Homo sapiens: one gene and its partner. The protein of the gene in region 1 interacts with the protein of each later gene in a biochemical or structural test. Each region holds a gene or a part of one and is shown on either strand. Other genes may lie near its edges. The genes, in order: KATNB1 and CAMSAP3.

The links.
Region 2: the proteins of KATNB1 (region 1) and CAMSAP3 form a complex in vitro, tested with the Homo sapiens proteins (one study listed by BioGRID).

Annotation. Positions count from the first base shown.
Region 1 is NC_000016.10:57,752,770-57,757,952, reverse strand, and holds the end of KATNB1 (katanin p80 WD40 repeat-containing subunit B1), read right to left. Parts: intron 5,176-5,183; coding exon 5,025-5,175; intron 4,877-5,024; coding exon 4,686-4,876; intron 4,565-4,685; coding exon 4,434-4,564; intron 4,009-4,433; coding exon 3,958-4,008; intron 3,024-3,957; coding exon 2,956-3,023; intron 2,835-2,955; coding exon 2,715-2,834; intron 2,609-2,714; coding exon 2,459-2,608; intron 2,113-2,458; coding exon 2,036-2,112; intron 1,962-2,035; coding exon 1,887-1,961; intron 1,598-1,886; coding exon 1,481-1,597; intron 1,140-1,480; coding exon 1,007-1,139; 3' UTR 709-1,006; downstream 1-708.
Region 2 is NC_000019.10:7,591,629-7,598,976, forward strand, and holds the start of CAMSAP3 (calmodulin-regulated spectrin-associated protein 3), read left to right. Parts: upstream 1-4,234; 5' UTR 4,235-4,374; coding exon 4,375-4,522; intron 4,523-7,348. UniProt on the Homo sapiens protein: Key microtubule-organizing protein that specifically binds the minus-end of non-centrosomal microtubules and regulates their dynamics and organization.

The DNA of each region.
Region 1 (5,183 bases):
CAGGGGCATTCCTCCATGTTACTGATGGGAAGGAAACTAAGGCTGGAGAGAGCTTCAAAGGCTATCAAAGCCTTGCCCAAACCATGCTGGGCTTCCAGGTTACTGCTGGGCACCACCCACTGCCCACTCTTTGCCCTGGCCTTTTCCCTCTTCAGTGAACTGGCCAGAGGTCCACGCCACCTTCCTCCAGTGCCGAGGACCCTGACCACCCCGGGGCGGGGCTGTACCTGGTCCCTGCCTTGGGAGCAGGAGGGGGCCCACCTGTCGCAGTGCCCACGGAGCAGGGAGCCCTTTCCCGCCAGCCAGTGCTGGGGACTCCAGCAGGGAGTGACAGCTGATCGGAGCCCTGCTCAGAGGAAGGGGCAGGTGCCCTTCTAGTCCTGCCCCTGGAGGCATCCTGGGGGTGTCCATAAGACAGCTTGAGTGTAGCTGAGGTGGGGAGGAACGGGCTGGTGGGGGCCACCCCTAACCTCAACACCCAGTGGTGGAAGGGTGGTTGCCGCCTCCCCTTCCTTCCCAGTCTGCACTGGCTGAACTGGTGCTGTCCCAGAGGCCTGATTCTCTGCTGCCCCCTGCTGGCCACATGGCCCAGAGCCCCACCCCCGGGCTTGGAGGGGGTGTGGCCTCATCTCAAACCATGGGGCAGGCACTCCTGGGCCCGGGGAGCCCTGTGGCCAGCAGAAAACATTCCCCACAAGGAAACCTGGGAATAGTTACAAATTTAATAAAATTTGCCTTATAAATTACAGCAGCAGCCCCAGGGCTCAGTTCGCTGCCCCAAGAAGCAACAGTTGGGCAAAGCTGGGCAGCTATTGCTGGAGAGAGTTGTCTCAAGAGTTCAGGGCTGTAGAGGTGGCCAGGGACCAGCATCACCTCCTCCAGGACGGCCACAGGACAGCAGCAGGGGCCAGGCAGAGGCTCATGGGCCAGTGGGTGCACAAGGAACAGGAGTGGGGGCTGAGGCCAGGCCCTGTGGGCTGCCGAGCGCCCCTGCCCACTGCTTTCCTCAGTCCAGACTGGCCATGAGCAGGTGCAGCTCGCGGAAGGTACTGCCATGGCGGCCGCTCAGGCCTGACTTGCTCTTGACCAGGCCGCTGATGCTCTTAAGCTGCTTGTAGCAGAGCCGGCACTTATGCAGCCTGTAGAGAGGGCAGTGCCTGAGGGGCTAGCTGGCACCACCACCACCCACACCCAACCCCAGGGCCTTTGCTGTCCTAACTGCTCCAGCCCTTCCTCCCAAGGGAAGGCGGAGGCCCAGAGGGGAACCACCCAGGCCCTGCCAGGGATTGTGGGCACAGCCAGGCCATGGAGGAACCCAGCTCTGGCTAAGCCCACCCACACCCTGAGCCATGGCCCCAGACCAACGCCTCCTCTGTACTCTGTCCCAGCAGGACTGTCAGTAAGAGGGGCCCAGGCCTCCAGGCCTTTGTCCCCTCACCTGTTGTGGCACCCCTGCCCCCAACACATGCGCTGCCCTCACCTCTCCTCCCTGCTGATATCCACACCCACAGAGGGTGGGGCCGCCAGCATGTCTGTGATGAGGGGCAGAAACCGCTGCAGGATCAGCTTCAGGGAGGTGCAGCCCGTCTGGACGTAGCTTTAGGGGGAGATGGATGAAGTCACAGATGGACCAAGGGCCACAGACAGAAAGAGAAACAGCAAGGAACAAAGGAGGAGAGGGGCAGAAACAGACACAGACACACCCACACATACACCCACACACGCCTGTTTCCACTCCCACCTCCGGACTGTTGAGGGGCAGCAATGCTTCACAGCCAGCTCACAGGAACACCCAGGCTCTTGGGGGTCCTTCCCATGGTTCTGGAGGAGGCTTCTTACCTCTCCCCTCCCCCTGCTTCAGGCAGGCATGGCTTCCCCACACGCACCTCTCATACTTGCTCTGCAGAAGCTTCTCAATCTGTGGCAGGACGGTGGTGCACAGGTCCAGCTTCCACAGGGAGCTAGGAGAGGCCAGGACATGCTGCCATCAGCCCAGCCCTGCCCCTCCGCCCACTCCCCCTCTGCAGCCACTTACGCTTTCTGGTTGACGATGTTCAGGAGGTCCACCACCACCGACAGGTCGTTGATGGCCACAGCGGAGTCCACCGACGTCTGTGCAAACAGAGCACCGTCAGGGGTGGGGCAGTGGGGGACAGTGTGGCCCTGTGAGGGTGAGGGTGGGGGTACGAACGTGAATGTGGGTGTGCTGATGGGGCTGTGGGTATTCAGCACTGCACCTAACGCAATGAGTGTAAGGCCAGGCATGTAAACAGATGCTCACTAAACGGCAGTCTGTGATGATGATGATGATGGCGGAAACAGATGGTGTGACGTCAGGGATGGCCTATCCCACACTGTCCCCCATGGGTGGCCTCTTCTTGTTCTGCCCCAAGCCCGGGCAGGCAGGTGGCAGGGGCAGGGGGGCGAGATGAGGCCCTGTGCAAGGGTGGGCACTTGCCTTGATGTCGCCCATGGTCCACACAGCCCGCACAGTGTCCAGGTTCTTGTGGCGGCTGGTGAGCACCACACACATGGTGTCGTGGCCTTTGCGGATCTGTGACATGGCATCCTCGTCCACCAGCTCGGCCTGCTGGGGGATCTTCACGGCCTGCGTGGGATGGACACCCAGATGCTGGCATGGGAGGAGCCAGCAGCAAAGCTCTGCCCTCCACCCACAGACCTCCACCCATGCCTCGAGCTGGGCTCCTACTCACGGGCAGGAAGTCGGAGGCCTTCAGCCCGATGGGCTCGTTCCGGGTGGCAGGGATGATGGCAGGCTCAGCCTTGGGTGCAGGTGTGGAAGCAACCACTGGGGGCCGGGGCAGGACCTCCAGCTGAAAGTGTGAAACTCAGCGGTTGCCGGCCTGGGGCCTCCCTCTCTGCCTCCCGAGGCACCCCCAACCCTGGGTCAGGACCTTCTCTAGGCCCCACACCATGCTCCCTCCATGGACATACATTTGGCACCGGGAACTGCACATCCATGGCAGGGCTGGGCTTTGCTGCCTCCTTTGCTGTGGCTGCGTCTGGAGGCAAAAGGAAAAGATGACTGGGTCCGGCCAGAAGGGCCTGGCAAGAAGGGCAGGGCTCAGGGCGGGACTCTGGGCAGCATCTGCAATGGGGGGATGGAGCAGGAGCATGGGGGAGGCTGCAGGCCAGTGGCGTGGGGGTTCCAGAGGACCTGGGGCAGGCCTGGACCTGCCTCCTCCCTCTCCCCCAACTCAACCTTAGGTCTGCCTGTGGGTGGGACCCAGGGGGCTCTAGGATGTGGCCATCCTGTCCCTTCACTGGCATGTATGTGGAGGGGGCTGGGATGACTGGCAAGATGGAAGTGGAGGCTCCTAGGAAAGCCAGGACTGACGGCAAGGACGGTCCCTGAGGGGAGGGCAGGGGTACTCTACAGGACAGGTGGCCCCATGCCTGCCCGTTCTCCAACCACAGTGCAGATCATTTTTCTCCCTTCTTAATCCAAACCCCCAGCTGAGGCCTTGTGGGCCTGACCTCTTGCTGGGACTCGCCCCAGCTCACCTCCTCTCAGCTCCCTTCCTGCCAGAAGCACTTCTCTCTCTCTCTTCTCACTGGCCCCCAGGCCTTGACAGGCATTGGGCCTCCTGAGAGCCTCCCGATCATCCCGTCTACAGCAGACCCCATCTAAGGTGGGCCCCCAGTGACTCCTCTCCATCCTCCACAGCCCGAGTGCCCCTGGCAGGCCCCCCAGTGTGGTGGTGTCCATGTTTGTCCCCCACACACCAGGGCACAGGCTCCTACGGGGGCACTATCGGTCTTGCAGGGACCTGGCACATAACAGGCAGAGGGCAGAGACCCAGCGGGAGAGGGTGTGGGTCGTGTCCTGAGAGGGGAGGGTCCTGGGAAGGGGCTTGTTGGGAGGGTTCACAGGAAGAGAAGATGAGGGACGGGGGGGCATCAGAGACCTTGGGAAACCAGGCTCACCCAACTCACCGTCCTCTGGGGGTGCAGGGAAGGGCTCACTTCTCCGGGGTGGCGTCCGACCTGCAGAGGAAAGAGGCCCCTGGCTGTGAGCGCTCCTGGCCAGGCCACCTGGGACCCAGGGCCCTGTCCAGAGTGCGGGGGACGGAGGGTAGCTCCCAGGCATGCGGCTGCAGACTGTGGACCCTGCTCCTGGTCCCAGGAACCCTCAGTCCTGCCCCTCCCAGCCCACTTGTCCCTGGCAGGGCAGGGACTGGGACACTGAGCAGCTGCTGGGCCGCTGCTGGGGAGTGCCCAGGCCCCCCTCTCAGTTCCATCAGAGCACAGCCTGGCAAGGCCCAGGGAACGTGAGGACAGGATACGGAGCCCAGGTGTGGGTTAGGAGGAAGTTAAAGGGATGCGGAGCCACAGCAGGCTACCCTGGAAGGACCCCCAGCCTCCCTTTCACCGATGGGGACGCTGGGCTGGGGGCGGGAGCCCGGCCTCACTGATGCTGTTCTTGGGCTGGAAGATCTCGTTGTAGTCCTCGGCGTTCTGGATCTCCGCGCGGGACTCGCGCTCGTCCCGGTCATCCTCGCTGCTGGGGCTGCGGCGCTCGCTCTCTGAGTTCTGCTTCACCCTGGGAGCGTGAGGCCAAGCCCAACGGAAGCAGGTGCCCTGTGAGGCCCAGGGCTGGAACTCCGAGGCTTCCCCTGTGACAGTCCCTCTCCTGGGCCCCCGAAGGCCCCCCAGGCCCTCACCTCTGAGGCTTGCTGCAGGTTGTGCTGGGCCGCTCATAGATGCGCCGGAGGGGGGCGCTGGGGTTGGGCAGTGGCTGTGCCAGGGGCCGGTGGTCCTGCACAGGGTCCCGGGCCACCGTGCCAGTCCTGGTGACACGCGTCAGATCCACCACGTAGGAGGAGACGTTGCTCTGGGAGAAGGCCACACCTATCTGCAGAAAGCGGAGAGGTGGGGCTGGGACTGCAAGCCGAGGGGGCAAAATCCCAGCCCCAGTGTGGGGGTAGGAGGAGGGGCCTGGGCTGGAGGGAGGCGGGTGGCCCTGTGGGAGTGGGGGGCGGTGGGTGCCATGGCTCTCTCACCAACTGGTCATTGCAGATGGCCAGGTCGGCCACCTTGCCCCAGTTGACGAGGACCACATCAAAGCACCGCTCAGGTTCCCAGCCGTAGACACGCAGTGAGTCCTGGCAGCCGCTGTACAGGCAGCAGCCGTCTGGGTTGAAGAGGACGCTCCTGGGCCA
Region 2 (7,348 bases), on another chromosome or scaffold:
CCCAAGTAGCTGGGATTACAGGCATGCACCACCACCTCTGGCTAATTTTTTTTTTATTTTTAGTAGAGATGGGTTTCTCCATGTTGGTCAGGCTGGTCTTGAACTCCGGACCTCAGGTGATCCGCCCACCTCAGCCTCCCAAGGTGCTGGGATTACAGGCGTGAGCCACTGGGCCCGGTCTTTTTTTTTTTTTTTTCTTTTTGAGATGGAGTCCTGCTCTTTCGCCCAGGCTAAAGTGCAGTGGCACGATCTCAGCTCACTGCAACCTCTGCCTCCTGGGTTCAAGCAATTCTTCTGCCTCAGCCTCCTGAGTAGCTGGGATCACAGGCGCCAGCCACCACACACAGGGAATTTTTGTATTTTTAGTAGAGATGGGGTTTCACAATGTTGGCCAGGCTGGTCTCGAATTCCTGACCTCAGGTGATGCACCTGCCTCAGCCTCCCAAAGTGCTGGGATTACAGGAGTGAGCCACTGTGCCCGGCCTGTATGTTATCTTTTTACGTATCACTTTCTGAGTGCATTTGTGTGCATGAAGCTGACATTTACATTTGTGTGAATTTGTGAATATTTGTGTGAGTCTGTGAGCACTTATTCCTGTTCACAAGGTGACAAGGTGCCTATGTATGTGTGTGTGTGTGTGTGTGTTCTGAAAGTAACACACGTTTTTCTTTTCTTTTTTTTTTTTTTTTGAGACAGAGTCTGGCTCTGTCACCCAGGCTGGAGTGCAGTGGCAAGATCTCAGCTCACTTCAACCTCTGCCTCCTGGGTTCAAGCGCTTCTCCTGCCTCAGCCTCCCAAGTAGCTGGGATTACAGGCATGTGCCACCATGCCTGGCTAATTTTTGTATTTTTAGTAGAGACAGGGTTTCACCATGTTGGTCAGGCTGGTCTTGAACTCCTGACTTCAAGTGATCCACCTGCCTCGGCCTCCCAAAGTGCTGGGATTACAGGCTTCAGCCACCGTGCCTGGCCGAAAGTAACACACTTTTCTTTCCAGGCCTGTAAAGAACGAACTCACACAAACACTTGTGCATTCACAATTATATACAGCTAAGAGGCATGCAGGGGATATTTTGACAAAAATACAATGGAGGGCCAAGCACAGTGGCACATGCCTGTAATCCCAGCACTTTGGGAGGCCGAGGTGGGAGGATCCCTTGAGCCTAGGAGTTTGAGATCAGCCTGGGCAATATAAGGAGATCCCATCTCTACACAAAACAAAAAATTAGCCAGGGATGGTGGCTGCAGTGAGCCATGATTGTGCCACTGCACTCAAGCCTGGGGTGACAGAGTGAGATCCTGTCCAAAAAAAAAATAAAACAACAACAACAAAACAAACAATAGAACAAAAGCAAATATTAAAATATTAAAAACATCCGGCTGGGCGCGGTGGCTCATGCCTGTAATCCCAGCACTTTGGGAGGCCGAGGCGGGTGGATCACCTGAGGTCAGGAGATCAAGACCATCCTGACTAACACAATGAAACCCCGTCTCTACTAAAAATACAAAATATTAGCTGGGCATGGTGGCCGGCGCCTGTAGTTCCAGCTACTGGGGAGGCTAAGGCAGGAGAATGGCGCGAACCCGGGAGGCGGAGCTTGCAGTGAGCTAAGATTGCACCACTGCACTCCAGCCTGGGTGACAGAGCGAGACTCGGTCTCAAAAAAAAAAAAAAAAACAAACAGAAAAAAAAAAACCAAAAATCCACAAATCGGTGCTTAGACCTTACAAATAAACACACAATTGCACTCATGTACACAAATATTTGTACTCAACGCGTTCACACACACTTCCATACTTACAGACACAATCAGATTCATACACAGAAATACATTTGCTTACACAGATATGAATTCCTAGATAAATATGCACATTTGAACTCTCACAAAAGCATTCAGACACAGGCATTCTTTTTTTTTTTTTTAATGTGACGGAGTCTCACTCTGTCGCCCATGCTGGAGTACAGTGGTGCAATCCTAGCTTGCTGCAACCTCTGCCTCCTGGGTTCAAGCGATTCTCCTGCCTCAGCCTCCCAAGTAGCTGCAATTATAGGTGTGGGCAACCACGCCCGGCTAACTTTTGTATTTTTAGTAGAGATGGGGTTTCACCATGTTGGCCAGGCTGGTTTTGAACTCCTGACCTCAGGTGATCCACCCGCCTCAGCCTCCCAAAGCACTGGGATTACAGGCATGAGCCACTGCACCCAGCAGAAACAGGCATTCTTGCACAGGTATACCTGCTTTCATGCCTACACAATCTGTCACAGGCACCCACCATATATTCAAATCCACAAAGATACTCACATATAAACACACATATATGCACAAAAATATAGTCAGGAACTGCTCATCATAAATCACACATCTGCTGGGCGCGGTGCCTCAAGCCTGTAATCCCAGCACTTCAGGAGGCCGAGTTGGGCGGATCACGAGGTCAGGAGATCGAGACCATCCTGGCTAACATGGTGAAACCCGGTCTCTACTTAAAAAAAAATACAAAAAACCAGCCGGGCGTGGTGGCGGGTGCCTGTAGTCCCAGCTACTCGGGAGGCTGAGGCAGGAGAATGGCATGAACCCAGGAGGCAGAGCTTGCAGTGAGCCAAGATCGCACCACTGCACTCCAGCCTGAGCGATAGAGCGAGACTCCGTCTCAAAAAATCAATCAATCAATCAATCACACATCCATGTGCATATAGCCAGATTCACATACTCAAATACAAACCCACTTAGACACACAGCCTCACCTCCACACAGAGCCTTCTCCCAGCACACACTGCAGATACCAGAATAATACACAAAGACACTTGCAAATACACCCAGTACAGCTACGCAAGGACACTCATAGACACAAATAGTCACACTCTTGCAGAAATATACACACTTTTTTTTTTTTTTTGAGACAGGGTCTCACTCTGTTGGCCAAGCTGGAGTGCAGTGGCACTATCTCAGCTTCTGCCTCCCTGGTTCAAGCGATTCTCCCGCCTCAGCCTCCCGAGTACTTGGGATTACAGGCATGCACCATTATGCCCGGCTAATTTTTAAAAATTTTATTTTTAGTAGAGACGGGGTTTTGCTATGTTGGCCAGGCTACTCTTGAACTCCTGGCCTCAAGTGATCTGCCCGCCTTGGCCTCCCAAAGTGCTGGGATTACACTCGTGGCCACCGCTCTCGGCCTGAAATACACACACTCTCAATGTCTCTCCATACTCCTGCATTGACAGAGGCATCAATAACAGCCTCATACAACACACCAGTACGTTCAGATGCACAGAGATAGACATACTCACAGCACTCCAAAAACACACACACAGCCGGGCACGGTGGCTGCCGCCTGTAATCCCAGCACTTTGGGAGGCTGAGGCGGGTGATCACCTGAGGTCAGGAGTTTGAGACTAGCCTGGCTAACATGGTGAAACCCCAACTCTACTAAAAATACAAAAATTAGCCGGGAGTGGTGGCGCAACCCCGTAATCCCAGCTACTCGGGAGGCTGAGGCAGGAGAATCGCTTGAGCCTGGGAGGCGGAGGTTGCAGTGAGTCGAGATCGCGCCACTGCACTCCAGCCTGGGAGACAGAGTGAGTGAGACCCTGTCTCAAAAACAAAAACAAAAACAAAAACAAAAAACAGACACACACTCATCACTTCCATCCATCCTCAGGATACAGACATCTATATAATACATATCCTTGTACACACAACAAATTAAACACACACTTACACGTGCCCAGATACATACCCCACACACACACACCCCTAGACACCCCCCAATACACTTGGTCACCACCCAAATGTATTCAGAGATACACAGATACGAAGACACTCATATTCTTGTGCCTTCACTAACATAATCAGAAACAGGTGCACCCAACCACTCTCTGCCTGAGGGCCGGCGTTTATTGCAAGCACTTGCAGGAGCTCCTACGCCTAAGGGTAGACACTGGGGCTGGCACACACAGAGGGTCCCTAATCCTTTCCAGTAAGCTAGGCGCGCGCGCACACACTCACACACGCGCGCGCGCACACATACACACTCAGTCCTCCGCAAGCTCCCTCCACCATCGCCGCAGTCCAGGCCGCCCCCCTCCGCCCCGCCCCTGCTGCTCCGTGCACACTGCAGTGAGGGGCCCGGGCGGGGCGCAGGGGCGCGCCAGGGTCCGGGTCCGGGTTCGGGGGCGGGGCGCACCTGGGCTCCTCCCCGGGGCGGGCCCGACGCAGCGTCGCCAGCGCAAGCGGCCGCACCTGGCTCAGCAGCGGCGGCGGCGGCGGCGGCGGCAGCGGCGGTAGCAGCAGCGGGCCCGGCTGGGGCGCGAGCGCGGCGCAGCCCAGCCCAGCCCAGTCCGAGCGCGGACCCGGCGCCCGCAGCCCCGGCGCCGCCATGGTGGAGGCGGCGCCCCCCGGGCCCGGGCCGCTGCGGAGGACCTTTCTAGTGCCCGAGATCAAGTCGCTGGACCAGTACGATTTCTCGCGGGCCAAGGCGGCGGCCAGCCTGGCGTGGGTGCTGCGGGCCGCGTTCGGGGGCGCAGGTACCGGGGCTCGGGGGACCGGGGTCGGGGGCGGCGGGCCGGGCGCGGCAGGTGCTGGGGGGGGGCGGGGCGCCGGGCCGGGAAGGCAGGGGGCCGTGGGAACAATAGCGCCGGCCGCCGGGGGTCCCCGGGCTCGGGCCCCTGCCGCGCCGGGGCCTCCGAGCTTCCTGCTCGGCCCGGGCGGTGGACTTTGCCCCGCCGGCTGCGGGAGCGCGGTGGGGGTGGGGCCCGCGGCCCAGCTCCGCGCGGGGGTCCCCGGCGTCCAAGCCTCCAGGTGAGCCGGGCGGGGTCTGCGGGCCGGGTGGGGTCTCCCCGTGCGGACCTCTCGTTCCCGCCTCCCGCACCCCCAAGGCCTTCCCTTGCACGCCTTCTTCTCTTTTACACACATCACGCCCCTGCGAGGATCTCCTCTCGGTCTCTTCCCCCGCCACACACCCTGGAGACCCAGACCCCGACCTCGCTGGGGGGTCTCGAGCGCTCCGGTCTCCACCACCGCACGACCCCCAGGCCCCAACACACACCCCGCGTCGGCCCTGGCCGCGCTGCGGGCGGCGACCGGGGAGCTCTGGGAACCCCCTTTCGCCTCCATAGCCCCCTCCAGCGCCTGGCAGCTGCGACTTATGGCCCCATTTTACTGGGGAGGTTGGCGAGCCCAGCTGAAGGGAAATGGGTAGTACAAGATCGCCTGGGGTGGGCCCCCCGCTCCTCCCGGCTGCGGGGCCTTCTCCCATTAGAGCAGATCCTTCACTCCCTCCCCCAGGCCCGCTTGCCTGAGAGCCCGAGCCACCCTAATGGGGAGGATGCCGTAATCCCGGGTCCCCGGGATTAGAGGCCCTGGAAACACTCAGTCTCGGCTTTGGGCAGCTTCACAACCCCAGGCCAGAGCTAGGAGTCAGGGCCTGGCCAGAGAAGACAGGGGTTAATTAAGGTCTGGGCTTTCCAGCGGGGAGCTGTGGGGGTACATCCTTTTCTCCCACTGGTTCTGCCCACTGGTGTTGGCACAGCCCATCCCCCCTCTCCCTGGCCTTCCCAGATCAACCTGTTCTGGGTGTGGGTCTCAGTGACAGCTGTCCGTCTCCTGGTTCCGCCCCAGCCTGTCCCTCTTTCTCCCAGACAGTCTCTGTCTGCGTCGTTCCATGCATGCATTTCCCACTCTGGGGTCTACCTCCCTGCAGATATTTGCTTGAGGAAGAAAGAGATTGGGCATTGGACAGCCAGGACAGCCCCAGCTCCTCACTTCCAAGGTTACCAGGCTGTAGAGAACTCAACGTGGAGTGTCAGAATTGAATGTGAAGTCCAGCTGCACCAGAATGCGAATTATCCCAATTATCTGAGCTTCTGTTTCCCCTTCTATAAAAGAAGGCGTTCATTCACAGACTTATCTGTTTTGCGAATGTTTGTGGGGCAGGGGCACTTGCTATGTGTAGGGCACTGCTCCAGTGATGGAGACCCCCCGTTACCTCTTTGCAAGGTTGCTGGGAGGCGTAAAAGCTGTAGTGACCACAGAATTCTTCGCGTGGCACGGGGCGCGTGATACATGCGAAACGGTTGCTCGCTGCTGGTGTGATTGGCGGTGGTATATTTTGATGAATAATATTAACGTTATCCATTATCCCCTGGCCAGGAATCAGAGTAGAAATTATCCCATTTTGAAGACAGCAAAGCAAACTTCTGATGAGGGGTGTTGGTGAGCTCCCAGTGCCCTGACTCACCCAGTTCTGTTCTTGTTGACCCAGCTCCCTCTGCTGTGTGACACACGGCAGTGGCTGCCTCTACCGTGAGGGTCAAGTTCAATCTGTTCCCTGTTCCACTCCCCTAAAAAGAGGAGAAGGGCTGAAGGAAATGGGAGCAGAGTTCTACAAGATTCATGAGCTCTGGGGACTCTTGACGGTATGATACCTATCAGGTGCTGGGCTGGGCGCTCAGGGTGTAGAGGAGACGGCAGGGGATGGATATGGGGCAGAGGGGGATGGGCAGGAAACCAGATCATAGGGAAGCTGGCCAGCGGGGCCTGGGGAAAGAAATTCTTGAAATCTTCCAGGGAGGGAAGAGATCCCACAGGTGGAAAGATTTGAGTCTGGAAGGATGCATGGAAGTTTGACACGGAGAAGAGATGTGTGGGCAGTGGGCAAAGGCTCGGAGTGTGGACCAGCAGGGAGTTCTCAGAGAATAAGATGCAGGTCCCCGGGGTGGCGGTGGGAGATAAGGGAGGCTGGTCAGACTGAGGAAGGCCCTTCAGGCCCCTGGTTATGGATCCAAGGGTACTGGGGAGCCACGGACAGTGTTGGGAACTGACAAGATCAGGTATGCAGTGGCCCCGTGGGAGTAGTGATGGCTCAGAGGAAGGGATAGTTCTGGCAACTCCAAGGCACAGGTGTGAGAAGGCTGTGCAGAAATAAAAGCAGAACACAAGCTTGGAGATTAGATAAGAAAGGGTTCCAAGCCTGGCCAACACGATGAATCCCCGTCTCTACTAAAAATCCAAAAATTAGCCGGGAATGATGGCACACGTCTGTAGTCCCAGCTACTTGGGAGGCTGAGGCAGGAGAATTGTTGAACCTGTGAGGCGGAGGTTGCAGTGAGCCGAGATTGCACCACTGCACTCCAGCCTGGGTGAAAGAGAGAGACTCTGTCTCAAAAAACAAAGGGTTCCATGTTAAACACATTTGGAAAACACCCCATGCAGTTCTTTATGCCTTCAGAACAGATGTGTGATGTGTGAGGGAAACTCAAGTTCATGTTGGACATTTTTATCCTGGACAAGTTATCTCAGCTCTCCAGGCCTTGGTTTTCTCATCTGTACAAGGGGTATAATAATAAGTGTCG